2 separate regions of the Homo sapiens genome follow, and region 1 is linked to region 2. A link means that fine-mapping ties the variant in region 2 to the expression of a gene that starts in the linked region. Tissue or cell type: pancreatic islets. Region 2 holds a variant in brackets; the other region holds the start of a gene. All regions are shown on one strand. Distances are between the middles of the regions.

Region 1 (5,146 bases), 260 kb after region 2:
TCCTCCTCAGACAGGTACCTGGATCCGGGGAAGGTGGGAAGCTCACTCACCAGCAGGGGCAACTGCAGATAGTCAGGCTCTTTCTCCCTAGCCATCCCAACCTGGCTGCTAGATTCCCCCTCATGCCCCAGGAACCTCCTGGGGCCTGAGTGTAGCTGGGACAACTTAACAGCCCTAGGAATCTCCCTGTTGTCAGAGCTGAAGCTGGACAGGGTTCTGACAATACAATCCCCACAAGCCTTTGCAAACAGTCTGTTTCATTTAACAGAAATGACCATCCCCCAACAGAGCTCAAATCCATCTATGGCCCTCAATCCCCAGGCCATACCCAGCCCAACTACCACTTGATCCCTGTTACGGCCCTTCATTGGCTTCCTTGTTTCTCCACTGCTCTCTCCCACCTGGTCCCACTCAGGATCAGAACAAGCTTTATCATCAACAAATACTTTTTTTTTGAGACTCAAATAATTTTTAAGATAATTTTAAATAATTCAAATCATCAATCTTGCCAGGGCGTGGTGGCTCACACCTGTCATCCCAGCACTTTGGGAGGCTGAGGTGGGTGGATCACTTGAGGTCAGGAGTTCGAGACCGGCCAGGCCAATATGGTGAACCCACTCCCCCGTTCCCCACCCCATCCCGTCTCTACTAAAAATACAAAAATCAGCCGGGCGTGGTGGCACACGTCCGTAGTCCCAGCTACTCCAGAGGCTGAGGCAGGAGAATCGCTTGAACCCGGGAGGCAGAGGTTGCAGTGAGCCGGTATCATGCCACTGCCCTCCATCCTGGGCAACAGAGCAAGACTCTGTCTCAAAAAAAAAAAAATCATCAGTCTTGATGAGTTGATGTTTCTGACACCCCACTCCTTTTTCAGTCCCTCATACACACAAGCCCCCCTGAGCCTCTGAGCCTTTGTGCGTGGGGTTCCTTTGGACTGAAACGCTCTTCCTCCAGTTCTGACCTTGGCTCACTTAGTGATTCATCTTCAAGTTCCCACTCAAAGGTCACCTCGGAGAGGCGTGTTCCAGATCACCCTCCCTAAAATCAACACTATTTACAACGGGTTCACCCCGTTGGTTGCTTTGCTGCACACACAGCAATCAGAATGTATGTTAGCTATTTACCCGGCTTTTGTTGATTTTTCTAGTAATGGGGGAGGGCTGTTAAGGCAAAGACTGTGTTGTTCACGGCTATCTCACCGGGGCGCGGCACATTGCCTGATACAAGCAAGTGCTCAATGATACTGGATGATGAATAAACTCTGCAAGGAAGCGATTCCTATCCCCATTCTGCAGAGGAGGAAACAGGGGCTCAGCTTGGTTAAGTGACTTGAACACGGAGGCACGGCTACAACCCAAATCTCAGGCCCTCTGCCCTCGACAGCACGGGGCTCCCTGCCTCCTCACCCGGTGACCAGGGTCCCGTCGCGGCGGATCCCGAACTGCGCGTTCTGCAGCCCCCCGGAGCTGCTCACCCGCCGCTCGTCGCTCACCACGTTCCCCAGGCACTCGCCCGAGTTCATGCGGAAGAAGCCGCCGTTCTGGGCGACACGGCAGTCGGCCGCCCGCGCCGTCTCCTCCACGGTGGCGCGTCGTCTCGCCGCGCAGCCGCCGGGTCCACCGGGCTCCAGCACCGAGAAGGTGCGCAGGGGCTCAACGGCCCGCGTCAGGTGGCCGGCCACCGCGCGGTCCCTGAAGTGCGACACGAAGGTGCGCACGGCCAGACCGCCGGCGCCGGGAGTCGCGGGAGGCGGAGGCCAACTCTCGTGCTCGCGGTTGCCGGCGCGCACCCGTGTGCAGTCCCGGGGGAGGCGCGCGCGCGCGCGTGGATAGGGCAGTAGCAAGTCGTCGTCGCGGGAGGCCCTGCGGGGACGGGCGGCCGTGAGCTCAGGGGGCTGTCCTCGTGAGCTCGGAGGACAGGGGGGACCCCCCGAACCAGGCTGGCCCAGGGAGCTGCACTCACCCCGAGTCGAGGCCGCCGGACGCTTCCCAGAGGAAGCCGAATAGTGCAAGCCGGAGGAGAAGCCAGCGACCCGTGGAGGTCGCCATATTGGACCGGGGCCTCGGGTCATGTGGGCTCGCCTCACGTGACTCAAGTCCCAGGGTGGCCGCTTTCAGCTCGGACTGAATTACCTGCGCTCTTTTCGGCTGGCGGGCTGGCGGGCGGTGCTGGTGATGTTAACTTTTTATCTCCAGGTAATCTCAAACCTACAGGAAGTTGCAAGGAGAGCATAAAGAACTCTCGTAGAACTGTTATTCATGTTTAGCAGTGGTTTAGGCTTGCCTGATTTACTCAATCATTTGTACTTTGTTTTTTTTTTTTCCTGAACCAATGGCAACCAAATTGCAGATGTCATGATCCTTTACCCCATACCTCGCCATGAATCTCCTAAGAACAAGGGCATTTTCTTAACCACAGGGCAAATATCATTAGGACAACTCCCATTGACATTTCTGTGATGTCATCCACAGCTAACCTTCAATTGTCCCTCTAATGTCTTTTTTTTTCTTTTCCTTTTTGTCCGCCCCTGACCCTGTAACCCAGGAGTTGCTTTTAGTTGTCATGTCTCTTTGATCTCTTCATCTGGAAGGCTCCTCAGCCTTTTGTCTTTTACTACCTTGACATTTTTGAAGACAGCCCAGCTACATGATTTGTGTGACTCAATGCAAAATGAAAACGTGGGGACACTTACTAAAAAACCCAGAAAACTATTAAGAATTTCAAGATGGTCAGAGCAAATGGTTGCAGCAAGCCAGGGACCTTCTGAGTGAGCCCATGAAGCTGGCCCTGAGTATAGAAGCCAGTTTATTTTGTAGCATGTACTTCAAGCTTCCTTTGAGAGGATTCTTCTCTTCAGGCCTCCTGTCCCAGTGCAGTGTCCAGGGTTGGGTGGTGTCTTGGTGCCAGTGCAGTGCGTGGGCCATTCCAGGAGCCACGGCAAGTCTAATTGGCTTGATACTGTTGCGGTCTTGCCAGTGCACCTTAATATAGCAGTTTCTCCTTGTCTGAACTAGTCCCGGGGTTCTTTGTCCTACCTCCAAGAAAACTAAGGAGCGTGGACACAAGGGTGGGGTTGGAGCGAACGTTTAATAAGGGAAAGAAGAAAGCTCTCCAAAGTGGAGACGGGAGTCCGAGTGGATTGTCGGGTTACAGCTGAATGCAAAAAGCTTTTTTTTTTTTTTTTTTTAAGACAGAGTTTTGCTCTTGTCACCCAGGCTGGAGTGCAATGGTGCGATCTTGGCTCACTGCAACCTCAACAACCTCTGCCTCCTGGGTTCAAATGATTCTCCTGCCTCAGCCTCCCGAGTAGCTGGGATTACAGGCACACGTCACTGCGCCCTGCTAATTTTTGTATTTTGGGTAGAGACGAAATTTTACCATGTTGGCCAGGCTGGTTTCAAACTCCTGACCTCAGGTGATCCGCCTCCTTCCGCCTCCCAAAGTGCTGGGATTACAGGCGTGAGCCACTGTGCCTGGCCGCAAAAAACTTTTATAGGACACTGCTCTCCTCCTGGTAACTGAGTAACTTCTTACCAGTAAAACTGCCTGTGCAGCTCCCCTTATGTTATGCAGCTGTGGGTATGTCTCTAGGCAAGTGCAAATCGCTGCTTCTCTTGTTTGTGTAACTGTGGGTTTGTTTTAGATAAGGCCCCCTCCTCCCTGTGCCGGTTTCCATGGAGCCCACTGTGTATATGCCTGAAAAGGAGAGGAAACTTTTTCCCGGGAGCCTGCTAATTATGCAAAGAACAAAGGGCTTCTGCGCTGGACCCTGTCTGCTTATCTCCGTGCAGGTCCAGCCTGAGTTTTTTCCCAGGTTGCTTTATTTTTGCCAGTTTCTATGACTTTTCAGGCAGGCCACTTCTGAGGTCAGAATTTTCCCCAACGGATTTTTCTTTTCCTTCTCCCTCACTACCACAGGTATGGGGGGACACAGATAGGGGCCAGGCCAGCCCCTTTTCATCCACAGTCAGCACTTCTGGTGCTTGATCTCAGGCCCCTCTTTGAGCCACTGCTCCTTTGAGCCAGTCCACGGTGAGGGTTAGTGAACTCAGTTAGAGAGTGTCCCCCCAAACTCATGTCCTTACCAGAACCTCAGAATGTGAACTTGTTTGGAAATTGGGTCTTTGCAGATGTAATTAGTTAAGATGAGGTCATTCTGGAGTAGGGTGGGCCCTGAATCCAATCTGACTGGTGTTCTTGTAAAAGACACAAATACACACAGAGGAAAGAAGCTCATATGAACACAGGCAGAGATTGGACTGATGCAGTCATAAGTCAAAGAATGCAAAGAAGGCTAGCAGCCACCAAGAGCTAGGAGAGAGGCGTGGGAGAGACTCTTGAGCTTTGACAGAGAACATGGCCATGCTGATGCCTTGCTTTTGGAAACTAATACAATTCAGGGACCTCAAAGGGGTCCCGGGAACAGCTCTGACGCTCCTAGTTCACTTTAACCATGTACAAAATGACTGCTCCTCCTAGAGGCTTAAATGACCAATATATTGATGTGAAGGGAGTATATCTTTCTGAGCTTTGCATTGGGCTGCTAAAAATAACCAGCAGAGGAGCCCAGGCCTGACGCCTACTCCCTGCCTCCGGAAGCGCTCTTTTTTTCTGCCTCAGTTAGGAGTTGCAGGAACAGGCAGTCTTTGGCAAGTTCTGACTTTGGTTTTCTCCCTACTTTGAGGTTTGCTACTCCTTTGCCAAGTTTTTCTAAGCACATAACGGGTGCCACAGAAATTCTGCATTTGAACAGAGCAGCCCATATCCACAGTTCTAGCCAAAGCTGCTAAGAAGCCAAGGGTTTTCTTTTTTGCTCTTCAGCCTGGAATACTTTTGTCCCCTCTTAGCATCCTCATTTGAGTTCTACCATCATTTGTGTGTTCAACAGGCTGAGCACCTCGTATGTGCTCCGTTGCAGCTGATCCCTGCCTTCATGGAGCTTAGCTTTTCAAGGGGAAACAGACATGAAACAGTTATGTGATGAATGCAAGAAGCAAAGGGCAGGACTGCGAGAGAAGGATGTTGCAGGTGTGGCAGGGAAGCCTCTCCAAGCCCCTTTAGACTGTGATTGAAGGAAAGAAAAGATGCGGCTGTGTGCAGATCTGGGCCAGAGCCTGAAGTGGGAAACAGCTTGGGAGGTGCAGCA
Region 2 (5,146 bases):
CCCTGAGTGGACACAGCACATGTTTCAGAGAGCACAGGGTTGGGGGTAAGGTCACAGATCAACAGGATCCCAAGGCAGAAGAATTTTTCTTAGTACAGAACAAAATGAAAAGTCTCCCATGTCTACCCCTTTCTACACAGACACGGCAACCATCCGATTTCTCAATCTTTTCCCCACCTTCCCCCCCTTTCTATTCCACAAAACCGCCATTGTCATCATGGCCCATTCTCAATGAGCTGTTGGGTACACCTCCCAGACGGGGTGGTGGCCAGGCAGAGGGGCTCCTCACTTCCCAGTAGGGGCGGCCGGGCAGAGGCGCCCCTCACCTCCCGGACGGGGCGGCTGGCCGGGCGGGGGGCTGACCCCCCCACCTCCCTCCCGGACGGGGCGGCTGGCCGGGCGGGGGGCTGACACCCCCACCTCCCTCCCGGACGGGCCCAGGGCTAATCTTAAACCTTGGGATGTGCTGTGACGTGGGCCAGTGTCTCAGCCAACTCAGATGTTGGTCGTGGGTGGTTTGAGTGCCCACGGGCTCTGGAAGCTCCCCAGTCCTGGAGTCAGCCTGCGGTGTGGGTGGAGAAGCTGGTTTGTGAATTCAACCAGCAGATCGCTGTAGGGCAGGCAATGCAGGGTCCGTTCTGTTCAGTCAGCAGCCCTGTTCTTACCACCTGCCATGCACTGGATGCAGGGATGAAACTGACATATCTCTGCCCTCACTATGTTTCCAGCCTAATGGGGGAGACTGACCAGGAAACAAACTAGGTGACACACACTCAGAGGGGGCAGTGAGTGGGTTGCCTGGGGAAGGCAAGGAGGGCTTCAGGGAGAAGGTGACTTTTAGTTGGAACAAAACTGCTACTCATTGTTGTCATTTGTTGAAGGCTCACCTTGCACCCAGCTTCCTAGATTAGAGGGGTAGCCCTTTCTTTTATTACCAAACTAATGACTAATGTAGCTTTGGCCCCCATGGTGTGGGATTCTGTGAAATCCATTTATTTTCTAGCTTTTTTGTTTTGTTTTGTTTTGTTTTTGAGATGGAGTCTCGCTCTGTTGCCCAGGCTGAAGTGCAACGGTGTGATCTCGGCTCACTGCAACCTCTACCTGCTGGGTTCAAGTGATTCTTCTGCCTCGGCCTCCTGAGTAGCTGGGATTACAGGTGCGTACCACCATGCCCGGCTAATTTTTTTTTTTTTTTTTTTTTTTTTTTGAGATGGAGTCTCGCTCTGTCGCCCAGGCTGGAATGCAGTGGCGGGATCTCGGCTCACTGCAAGCTCCGCCTCCCGGGTTCATGCCATTCTCCTGCCTCAGCCTCCCAAGTAGCTGGGACTACAGGCGCCCGCCACTACGCCCGGCTAATTTTTTGTATTTTTAGTAGAGATGGGGTTTCACCGTTTTAGCCGGGATGGTCTCGAACTCCTAACCTCAGGTGATCTGCCCGCCTCGGCCTCCCAAAGTGCTGGGATTTCAGGCGTGAGCACCGTGCCCGGCCTATTTTCTAGCTTTCTGGAGAGTCCCTGGGCTGTGGAGCTCACACATTCTGCAGCAGGTCCTCCACCCTGGACTGCTGCTCCATCTTGATCATGTAGCCTCTGTCTTCATGCCATTTCTCCAGGTTGTGGTCGGCACATCCTAGGGAGTATTTTATTTTGTCTGAACAACAGTGCTATGTGCTTGGTACCATGATCCCCATTTTACAGATGAGGAAAGTGAGGCAAGGGGAGCATAAGTAACTGACTTGCCTGCTGGGATTTTCACACTGGCATTGCCAGGCTCCACAGTGGGAGCTGTTTGCTGGCCATGCTGGCCCCTGGGGCAGGGGAATGAGGAAGGTGGGGGATGGTGGAACACAGAGATCAGGTAAGACAGCCAGAGATCAGGCCACAAAGATGGGGATTTTGAAAGTGTTCTTGGCCTGTGGGCCTAGCCCCGGGCCAGGAGTAAGGGGCTGGGACAGATGGGAGAGCTGATTTTGTCACTTGGGTCTGGCTCTGGGGCAGAGGGGGCTGGTTGTCCAAGGCATGCCTTCCCAGGCCTTCAAGATTCCTAGGGCCTTGGGTCTCACATTATTCAAAAAGAAACCTGGGTGCTGTGGCTCATGCCTGTAATCCCAGCACTTTGGGAGGCTGAGGCAGATGGATCACTTGAGGTCAGGAATTTGAGACTAGCCTGGCCAACGTGGTGAAACCCCGTCTCCACTAAAAACACAAAATTAGCTGGGCGTGGTGGTGGGCACCTGTAATCCCAGCTACGCGGGAGGCTGAGGCAGGAGAATTTCTTAAACCCGGGAAGCAGAGGTTGCAATGAGCCCAGATCATGCCACTGCATTTCAGCCAGTGCGACAGAGTGAAACTCCATCTCAGAGGCTGAGTGCAGTGGCTCATGCCTGTAATCCCAGCACTTTGGGAGGCCGAGGCCGGTGGATCACTTGAGGTCAGTTCAAGACCAGCCTGGCCAGCATGGTGAAACCCCATCTCTACTAAAAATACAAAAATTAGCCAGGCATGATGGTGTATGCCTGTAGTCCCCAGCTACCTGGGATGCTGAGGCAGGAGAATGACTTGAACCCGGGAGGCAGAGGTTGTAGCGAGCCGAGATCACGCCATCGCACTCCAGCCTGGGCAACAAGAGCGAAACTCCATCTCAAAAAACAAGACAAAACAAAA[A/C]AAAAAAAACCCCAGAAAACTCCATCTCAGAAACAACAACCAACAACCACCACAAAAACATACTTGGTTGGCAGCAGTGGTAATCCCAGTGTTTTGGAAGGCTGAGGCGGAAGGATCACCTGAGGTCAGCTAAAGACCAGCCTGAGCAACCTAGTGAGGCCTTATCTCTACAAAAAAAAATGGTAAAAATCAGCCCATCAAGGTGGTGTCATGCCCATAGTCTTGGCTACTTGAGAGGCTGAGGCAGGAGGATCACTTGAGCCCAGAAATTTGAGGCTGCAGTGAGTCATGATTGCGCCACTGTACTCCAGCCTGGGTAACAGAGTGACACCCAGCCTTTTTATTTGTGGATAGCTCAAAGAAGTCATTTACAAAATGCCTTTTGTTTTCAAAGCACAGCTTTTCATAAAAAGCAAGGCTCACATTTAATAGATGCTCTGGTACATAGGTGTGTGTTGAGAGCCGCTGGGGACTCAGGAAGCCCAGCAGCCCCGGGATCCGCCGGTGGTCAGAACTCATCATCAGAATCGTCATGGGCCCCCCTGCAGACCTTGAAGGTCCGGGGGGTGGTCAGCTGTCCTGGGGAGGCCGGGGCCAGGTTCACCCAGCCGGGCCCGCGGGGCAGCAGGTGGCTTTCATTGAGTCTGATGACGCGGTAGTTCTCATAGTGGATGTTGTGGGTTATGTCCTTCAGGTCTTGGAGGTGGGAGCTGGGGGACCGGAGACGGTCAGCCCCGATGGTGGTGTCCCCAGGGCCCCTCGCCAGCCCCCTAGCCCCAGGCTCCCCACACCCTCACCGGATAAGCAGGTCTCTCAGGAGAGGAAATTCACAGTGCGCCATGTTCTCCACTGCAAGACATGGGACTCAGTATGGGCGCTGCTTAGTGAGCACTGAGTAAGTGCCTACTGTATGCACCACCTGACACCATTTCCCTTAGCCCTTTTCCCACATTTCTCTTTACCCTATCCTGCCTTCCCTTTGTTGGTTCATTCATTCATTCACCCACTGTTGTGTTCCCAGTGCCTGGTACAGGCGGCTCCTACAAATAGCTGTAGAATGAATGAATCCACCAATCATTATTGTATTATATGTACACTCGGCCTCTGTATCCATGGGTGCCCACTGTAGGACTTGAGCATCTGCCGATTTTGGTATCCCTGGGGGTCCTGGAACCACCCTCTGCGGATAGCATGGGTGCTATATCATAGGCAATAGTATAGTATATTTCTGGCTGGGCGCGGTGGCTCACGCCTATAATCCCAGCAGTTTGGGAGGCTGAGTTGGGTGGATCACCTGAGGTCAGGAGTTTGAGACCAGCCTGGACGACATAGTGAAGCCCCGTCTCTACTAAAAATACAAAAATTAGCCGGGTGTGGTGGTATAATCTGTAGTCCCAGCTATTTGGGAGGCTGAGGCAGGAGAATCGCTTGAACCTGAGAGGCGGAAGTTGCAGTGAGCCAAGATCGCTCCACTGCACTCCAGCCTGAGTGACAAAGCAAGACTCTGTCTCAAAAAAATATATATATATAGTATAGAATATTTCTAATAATTATAATAATACATCACCTGACCGGGCGCGGTGGCACACGCCTGTAATCCCAGCACTTTGGGAGGCCGAGGCGGGCAGATCACGAGGTCAGGAGTTTGAGACCAGCCTGGCAACATAGTGAAACCCCGTCTCTCATAAACATACAAAAAATTAGCTGGGCGTGGTGGCAGGTGCCTGTAATCCCAGCTCTTTGGGAGGCTGAGACAGGAGAATCACTTGAACCCAGGAGGCGGAGGTTGCAGTGAGCCGAGATCACGCCACCGCACTCCAGCTCGGGTGACACTGCGAGACTCCATCTCAAAAAAATAAAAATAAAAAATAATAATAATACATCAGGGGCTACATCCTCGCTGCCCCTCCTGTGTCACTTTCCCTAGCTCCCTAAGGCAGTCTCCTCTCCCTCCCGCCACAATCGCCTTCACTGTGCCTCCCCGACCTGTCCTTGTCCTGTCAGCTCTATGGGGACAGGGACCCTGTCAGTCCTCCCTTTACCGTGCACTGCAGTAACTGCACATAGCGGTGCCTGATACACAGTAGGCCCATCGTAATTTCCGGCCAGCCACTAGGGCAGCCTTGGGTATTGGGCATTGTGCAAAATGGTGGTTCTCCCCGCTCCAACACCCTAGGAAGTTGATGCACTGTGATGCCCACTTTACTGTGAGGAAACTGAGGCCCAGAGGGTCCGGAAACTTGCCACAGCCTCCCAGCTGGAAAGAGGGACCATTCCCCAGGGCTCTTTGTCTAGTGGGCTTCACCTTTCTGTGCCCTGTGATGGGTGCGAAGGTTGCCCAAGGCTGCTCTGGTTTCCAAACTGACCCCACCTGCATCCTACCCAGGGGCCCCGCACTGACCTTCAATGATGCCCCACTTGGTCTTCCGGCCCAGGACACACCTCCCGTTCACCAGGTGCTCTTGGTCAGCCCCTACCACGGC

What was found. PIP is the estimated chance that this variant, and not a neighbour inherited with it, causes the effect.
Region 1: it holds the start of NAGPA, and the variant in region 2 is fine-mapped to the expression of NAGPA in pancreatic islets (PISA, PIP 0.95).

The regions. Positions count from the first base shown.
Region 1 is chr16:5,031,867-5,037,012 of GRCh38, forward strand. NAGPA (N-acetylglucosamine-1-phosphodiester alpha-N-acetylglucosaminidase) reads right to left here and starts at 2,069. Exons shown (of 10, transcript NM_016256.4): 1 at 1,963-2,069; 2 at 1,407-1,862; 3 at 1-18. The coding sequence starts at 2,048. It overlaps NAGPA-AS1 (NAGPA antisense RNA 1), which reads left to right and starts at 1,836. Exons shown (of 2, transcript NR_038913.1): 1 at 1,836-2,195. RefSeq lists enhancers at 1,306-1,807, 2,001-2,180.
Region 2 is chr16:4,774,626-4,779,771 of GRCh38, forward strand. SEPTIN12 (septin 12) reads right to left here. Exons shown (of 10, transcript NM_144605.5): 8 at 5,065-5,146; 9 at 3,461-3,512; 10 at 2,981-3,373. The coding sequence ends at 3,172. Among named protein-coding and RNA genes, the nearest start is that of ZNF500, 10 kb to the left of the region's middle. The variant A/C (reference allele first, on the strand shown) is at 2,664.